Linked DNA regions of Homo sapiens. The protein of the gene in region 1 purifies or fractionates together with the protein of each later gene. This does not show direct contact. Each region holds a gene or a part of one and is shown on either strand. Other genes may lie near its edges. The genes, in order: ENOPH1 and PUDP.

What was found.
Region 2: the proteins of ENOPH1 (region 1) and PUDP fractionate together in Homo sapiens (co-fractionation; one large-scale study listed by BioGRID). This does not show direct contact.

The regions. Positions count from the first base shown.
Region 1 is NC_000004.12:82,454,419-82,458,241, reverse strand, and holds part of ENOPH1 (enolase-phosphatase E1), read right to left. Parts: intron 3,521-3,823; coding exon 3,388-3,520; intron 1,328-3,387; coding exon 1,204-1,327; intron 1-1,203. UniProt on the Homo sapiens protein: Bifunctional enzyme that catalyzes the enolization of 2,3-diketo-5-methylthiopentyl-1-phosphate (DK-MTP-1-P) into the intermediate 2-hydroxy-3-keto-5-methylthiopentenyl-1-phosphate (HK-MTPenyl-1-P), which is then dephosphorylated to form the acireductone 1,2-dihydroxy-3-keto-5-methylthiopentene (DHK-MTPene).
Region 2 is NC_000023.11:7,078,362-7,082,184, forward strand, and holds part of PUDP (pseudouridine-5'-phosphatase), read right to left. Parts: intron 1-3,823. UniProt on the Homo sapiens protein: Dephosphorylates pseudouridine 5'-phosphate, a potential intermediate in rRNA degradation. Pseudouridine is then excreted intact in urine.

The DNA.
Region 1 (3,823 bases):
AGTTACCGCGCCCAGCCATTATTTGGGATATTAACTTAGTTTTTCATTCTGCCTCAGCAGTGGAAGTCTGGGCATGTGGTACCAAAACAGGACCAGAGAGAAAAGAGCAAGCAGGCAGACAGCTCCCTGCCTCATCCCAGCTGCCGATGACCCAAGTTCTGGCCTAAGTGTGTATGGGGCCAGCAGAAGATGAAGGGCAGGAATAAAACCTCCTTACAGAGAATCAAAGGGAGCTAATTTCATTTTGAAGCCAATTTAGGGATTATTTCTATTCTCCAAAATTAGGAATAATTTCTACAATTGCAACTGAGGAAATGGCTTAAATGAGAAGAGAAAGATCTGAAATTATAGATGTACTATGTGATCCCAAATACAAAAATTAAGTGGCTAAACACAAGAATATGAAGAAACTATAAGTGGTCTAAGGACAGGGGTTATAATTCTTAATATTGAGATAGAGCAAAGGTCCGGGGATCACAAATGGAACTGTGCATTTAATCCCAGAACTGGCTGGCTCAACTACCTACCCCTTATACTCACAACCCCGCTTGCATGCTCCTTCCCATGACAACTCCTCTAAGTCTTCCTGTTAATTTCCTGTGTCATAGTGTGTGTGTGTGTGTACATAGCGATGGCTGGGAAATCACGGACAAGGAGTTAAACGAGAAGAGTTAGTCTTTTCAATGCCACTTCCCCACATGCAACCCCCAGAGTTGGTTCATTCTTTTTTGAGACAGTCTTGCTCTGTCACCCAGGCTGGAGTGCAGTGGCACAAACACGGCTCACTGCGGCCTCGACCTCCTGGGCTCACCTGATGCCCCTGCCTCAGCCTCCCATGCAGCTGGGACCACAGGAGTGAGCCATCATACCCAACTAACTTTCTGAATTTTTCTGTAGAGACAGAGGTCTTACATTGTTGCCCAGGCTAGTGTCGAACTCCTGGGTTCAAGCAATCCTCCTGCCTGAGCCCACAGAAGTGCTGGGATTACAGGCATGAGCCACCAAGCCTGCCTTCACTGCTGTGTTTTTTTTTTTTAATTCAAACATGAACTTGAACCAGACACTGTTTCTTTATATAAAACCGTAAAACTGTTTTATTTTTCAAGGATCCCCATATAAAGTTTCTTTAAAGAGGCAATGTATTTGTAGTGCCAGGCTCAGTTCATATCCTGGAGTATATAATATAAGAAGTCTATTACTCACCTCGAGTAACATCTGTCAGAAACAAAATGTTGTTGGTTGAGCACCCAATGCTGTCTGCAATCTTTCGGTAACTTTCACTCTCTACTTTGTGTCCAATCTTGGTATCAAAGTGACCATCAACAAGCTGAACAAAGAGAAGGGGAAAGACTGGCAATACAAATACACTTGCATGCCCCTCATGCCTTTCTCTGAAATACATGACAATCACAATTACTTCATTCGTTCAGTATTTTCTGAAAATCTACTTAATAGGGAACTTTATGGAGGCTATACAAAGTAAAAATAAAGATTTTATAGCAACAGACATTTGGAAGAAGAAAACTACCAGCTCAACATACATAAGATCATTTCATAATCTACCTGGTTTTCACTACCGTTCATTTTACATCTGAAATAGTTTAAAATAAACATGCCCTACATCCTACCCTTAAAGATGATTTGCACTCAAACTACTCACTGGATTGAATTTTACTCCTGATGAAAGATTCTGAACACTGTCCTTTAATCTTACGATGAAAAAATTTCTCTAACCTGCCTCATGAATAAGCTATTATTTTACTTACAAGAAATTCTCATTTTCTAGTTAAAACGTTTTGAAATTCTACCCAAGGGCTCGTCTATGTCTCTGCCCTCTTGGAAACAATTGGAGTCAAATCTGTAACTTGCTAATTTGACCAACAGTAATTAAAATAAGTCCATATTTAGGGTCAGTTACTAAGATGTGATCTTTTGAATGTTTTCAGAACTTTTCACAAACTAAAAACAAGCATAGTAAGCACTCAAACTGGGTTTGGCCAATGGGAAGGTAAAAAAAAAAAAAAAAGTAATTTTAAGTTTTTTTTTTTTAAAGTTAAAACTGATTTTGCTTATTTTCTTTTTCTTGCAGTTTGCCTCACTTGGTAACTAGAGAGTAAAATTCTTATTAGTGAACTCAGTAGGTACTTTTGTCCTGTCATGATTGTCAGAGAGAGCAGAAAAGAAGTTGTATCTGTATTAAGAGAACAGTCACCAATGATTAAAGGGTTTCATTATTAATATTTGATTTAAAAATAAGACAGAAAGTAGGAAAATACTAAAATTAGAATATTACAACCTCCAAAGCCAAAGTGTTCTTTGCACATGGTAGGTGCTCAATACATATTTATTTTAAAAACTTGTCTGGCCAAGTTACCTATTGTAAGTAACCTATTATAAGTTCGGTCTATATTCAAGTTACCTATTGTAAGTTAAAATAAGTAAATTTTTTTTTTTTTGAGATGGAATCTCACTCTATCGCCCAGGCTGGAGTGCAGTGGCACGATCTCAGCTCACTGTAAGCTCCGCCTCCTGGGTTCAAGCCATTCTCCTGCCTCAGCCTCCCGAGTAGCTGGGACTACAGGTGCCCGCCACCACGTCCGGCTAATTTTTTTTTTTTGTATTTTTAGTAGAGACGGGGTTTCACCATGTTAGCCAGGATGGTCTCGATCTCCTGACCTCGTGATCCGCCCACCTTGGCCTCCAAAAGTGCTGGAATTACAGGCGTGAGCCACTGCGCCCGGCCGGTAAATATTTATTTTTAAAAAGTATCTGGTCAAGTTACCTATTGTAAGTAACCTATTTTAAGTTAAGTCTATATTCCAAGTTACCTATTGTTAAGTTTGGTCTATATTCAGCTAATCAGCACTTCTTTTTAAAACCCTAAATGTAGTCACTTCTTTCACTGATCACCCCATCCTCCAGGGGGTGCAGGGATGATGACACAGAGGGGCTAGCAAGAATTTTCTCATGTACATGAAATGCAACAGGTGACGACCTTATTACATTTAAAAATGTGCCTGGTTCTCCTATAATAATGCTGGTTCTTCTTAAATGAAATCTATATTTCTTCAAAGAGCCAGAAACAAATGAGTGCACCTTGTTCTCTGCTGTATTCAAAAAGTCTTTATATATTTCTCAGGACTGCACAATCCTATTTTGCATCCTAACTGATTTTATTTTTCAAGACACAGAATAAACTTTATATAACAACCTTATATAGAAGAAACTGTAAATACAATATAATTAAAAGTGATTATTTTCTTCTTACCTAATTTTAAACAACCAAAAAAAAAAAAGCATTCTATTAGTTCCAATTAGTTTTCCATTAAGATTCATTATTTTATGCTTTGATAGCGTCAAAACAACAAAGTAAACTAGGTAACCTACCTCAAGAATATCTCCCTCCGTAGAATGCCCGAATAACAGTTTCTGTGCCTCCACACTCCCTGAGGAATAGATGTACACCTTCATTCCGGCCTCTCTCCACTTCCTGACTGCTGGAACTACATCTGCAAAGAACCTAGAGGGAAGACCACTAAGTTAAAATACAGGAACACCTCATCTAGCCAGATAAAAACCTGTCAAAACAGATGCCATATGTTTCTCTCTTTGTGCCCACATGGTAACCTGAGAAGCAGCTCCCTGAGACTACAAACTCCTGCAGTTCTAATAAACATACTGCCCAAGTTCCAGGCTCACAGCAGATTAGAAGCAACAATCTATGTGGAAAGGAGGATAGTTTTGAACAGACAGCCACTAGTGACAGTAAAAAGGGACTACAGATAAAAGGATGAAATGGGAAAGTGTTTTTTAAATTCCCGAA
Region 2 (3,823 bases), on another chromosome or scaffold:
GGCTCACTGCAACCTCGGCCTCCCAGGTTCAAGCGATTCTCCTGCCTCAGCCTCCAGAGTAGCTGGGACTACAGGCATGTGCCACCACGCCCAGCTAATTTTTGTATTTTTAGTAGAGATGGGGTTTCACCATGTTGGCCAGGCTGGTCTCAAACTCCTGACCTCAGGTGATTCGCCTGCCTCAGCCTCTCAAAGTACTGGGATTACAGGCATGAGCTACCACGCCTGGCCTAAAATTATTTTAAATAATTGTATAATCATGCCTATTTTAATAATGTCATGATTTAATGTCCCTACTTTGTCAATTGTTACACAAAACAATCAACAGACTCATTTTTTCCGAACACCTACAGTCATTCAGGATAAGGTAACAGATATCTGGAGCACCTGACCCTCTAAAGATTTTTAAAAGGAAGGCATGGACAGATCATAATGTAGTTCCAGGACAAAGTTAAATAAAGCAAATGAAATCAAGCAAAATCTAGCACTCCACTGGGTGTAGAATTCATAGTGTCTAACATTCAATCAAAAATTACCATGCTGCAAAGAAGCAAATACCACCCACAATCAGGAGAAATAGACACAGAAATGATAGAGACAGATGGAATTAGCAGATCATGACCTTATGTAACGGCTTTATAAGTATTATAAACACACCTAAGATAGACACTATCAGAATAAAAAAGAAAAACAAAAGACCCAACTACATGTTGTCTACAGAAACCTACTTTAAATATAACTACACAGATAGATTGAAGATAAAAGGATAGAAAACTACATACCACATAACTATTGCTCAAAAGAGAGCCAGGTTACTTACATTAATAACAAACAAGCCTTTAGAACAATGAATGACTATCATCAGGGATAAATAGGGACATTTCATAATGACAAATAGATCAGTTCATCAATAAGACATAATTCTAAATGTGTAAACATCAAATAGCAGAGCTTCAGAATGCATAAAGCAAAAACCAATAGAACTGAATGGAGAAACACAAACGTAGAAGGAAGTTTAAAACTCCTCTATCAGTAATTGATAAAACAAGTAGACAGAAAAGAAGTAAGGACACAGCAGACTTCAGAACCACTGTCAAGCAACCTGACCTAATTGACGTTTATGTAATACTTCTCCCAACAACAGCAGAAACCACATTATTTTTAAGTGCACGTGGAACATTCAACAAGAAATATCCTATTATAAGGATAAAACTATTCTCAAAAATTATAAAATACTTAAAATCATACAGAATACCTTATCTAACGATGGTAGAATTAAAATAGACATTAATAATAGGAATGTGGAAAATCACAAATATTTGGATGTTACACTTCTATGTAAGACATGGGTCAAAGATGAAATCACAAAGGGAAACTAGGTAATATTTTGTAGAGAACTAAAAACTACCAAAATTTCTGGGATGTGGCTAAAACATTGCTTCGATGAAAACTGATGGCATTGAGTGATATGTTAAATAATAAGGTCTCAAATAAGTGATCTAAGTTGCCACATTGAAAACCTGAAAGAAAGAAGTTCAATGATTTAAGCTTTTACCTTAAGAAAGTGAAGGAAAAGAGCAAATTAAACCCAAAACAAATAAAAGGAAGGAAATAATAAACATGAGAGAGAAAATCAATGAAATAAAAGTAGAATACAGAAAACCAACTAAATCAAAAGCGAGTTGTTTGAGAAGAGCAATTAAATTAGTAGACTCCTAGCTAAACTGATCAAAAAAATAAAGAAGATCCAAATGTACTAACATTAGCAGGGAAAGAGGGGACAGACATCACTACAGATTCTAACATCGATAAAATGATAAAAACTTAATTATTATAGGATTAATGGCAACACATTTGACCATTTAGATGAAATGAGATAATTCTTTGAAAGATATAAAACTCCCTCAAGAAGACACAAATAACCTGAATAGCCTTCTGCCTATGAAAGGAATTGAATTTGTAATTAAAAACCTCCTTCCCACATCTAGGATCAAATGGCCTTGCTGGTAAATTTACCAACTTCCCAAGAAAAAAAGGATGCCAATTCTAAACAGACTTTTCAGGAAATTGGAGGGAACACCTCTCAACTCATTTTACATTTTACATCAGCACTTCCCTGATCCCAAAACCAGACAAAAGCCAGACAAGAAAACGACAGATCTCATGAACATACATACACATACCTCCACGCATAAAAACAATATTCAATCAGTGTAGAAGTACTCCACCTAAAGAGCTTCTACAGAACTTGAATCCATTAGTTAAAAATACTAAAATGCCACACTATTTCATTAGTTTGCAACAACCACTGATTAGTATCACAGAGGACTATATTTATTAGCTAAATTTCAATTTAAACCTTAACCTAACTGATGGATGAGATAAAAGGCTCTAATTTTTTTAAAAAAGAGACAGTCACGTGTGGCAGTGCGTCCTGTAACCCGTTACTTGGGAGGCAGAGGCAGGAGAATCGCTTGAACCTAGGAAGTGGAGGTTGCAGTGAGCCGACATAGCGCCACTGCACTCCAGCCTGGGTGACAGAGCCAGACTCCATCTCAAAAAAAAAAAAAAAAAATTAGCCAATCATGAACTTCTGTCTGGATATAAACAGTGATTAAAGCTGAGTATCAAAACAATCTGAATTTAAAACAAGATTTTTAAATTGCTAGATCACACAATTTTAAACCAATATTTTAAAAAATGGAGCACACTTAAACACATGGCTCTGTAAAACACACTGTATAAAAATTTTCTTAAAGTACTTTGGTGCTATTAATTTTAAAAACTTAAACAGATTATTTTATTATTATTGTTTTGAGACAGGATCTTGCTCTGTGACCCAGGCTGGAGCAGAGTCAAACAATCATAGCAGCCTTGACCTCCTGGGCTCAAAACGATTCTCCAGCCTCAGCCTCCCGAATAGCTGGGACTACAGGTGCATGTCACCATGCCTGGTAAATTTTTTTATGTTTTGTAGAGACAGGGTCTCCCTATGTTAGCTAAGCTAGTCTTGAAGTTCTGCTTCAAGTAATCCTCTTGCCTCGGCCTCTCAAAGCCCTGGGCTTAGAGATGTGAGCCACTGTACCCGGCCGATTATTTTATTTTAGCTTATCCTTCTTGCATTTCTATTGCTGTGAATTATTTCTAAGGTGGAGTAGATAAACAAACACACACCAATGTGTCTAGACTGGAATGCAGCTCAACATTCTTATTGATGGAGAATGAATCAAAAACGGTTTTGGACGACTGCTTTACACCACCACAACATACTGAGATCTCCAAAATGCTTGGGACTCCTATGAAGATGAAAGCCAAGACAAGACTATGACCACAGTCAGAGATTACGGGACATCCGTCAATTATACGCCCTCTTTGGGCCTCAATTTTGTCATCTGTCAAAGAGCAATGATTAACGTTCCTCATGGAATTAATTCACAAGAAGAACAATGCCTGGAAAATGACATGGGTGAGGAAGCCCCAGATAAATGTTAGGTAGTGTCGTTATCATCAGATATAGCTCCAGTGTATCATCAGGAATGAACGATCCTAATCACCTGATTCAAAACTGCCTGATGCCTTCACAAAGTTTTTCATCTTTTAAAGAGTGCACACAAACTTTGTCTCACTCAGTGGCTTTCCCTGAGAAGTAAAAGACGAAAAAATGCAAATGGAGTTCTGTTCTAGGGAGAAGCTGGTTAATTATGTGTATAAATGAACTCCAGTTCCCAGCTCCTAGAATTTGGTGTGCTTCCGTGGGTTTACAGGAAGGGCAGAGAGACAGATATCTAGGTATCTGTTGCTCCAAACAATCAGCTCACAGGAC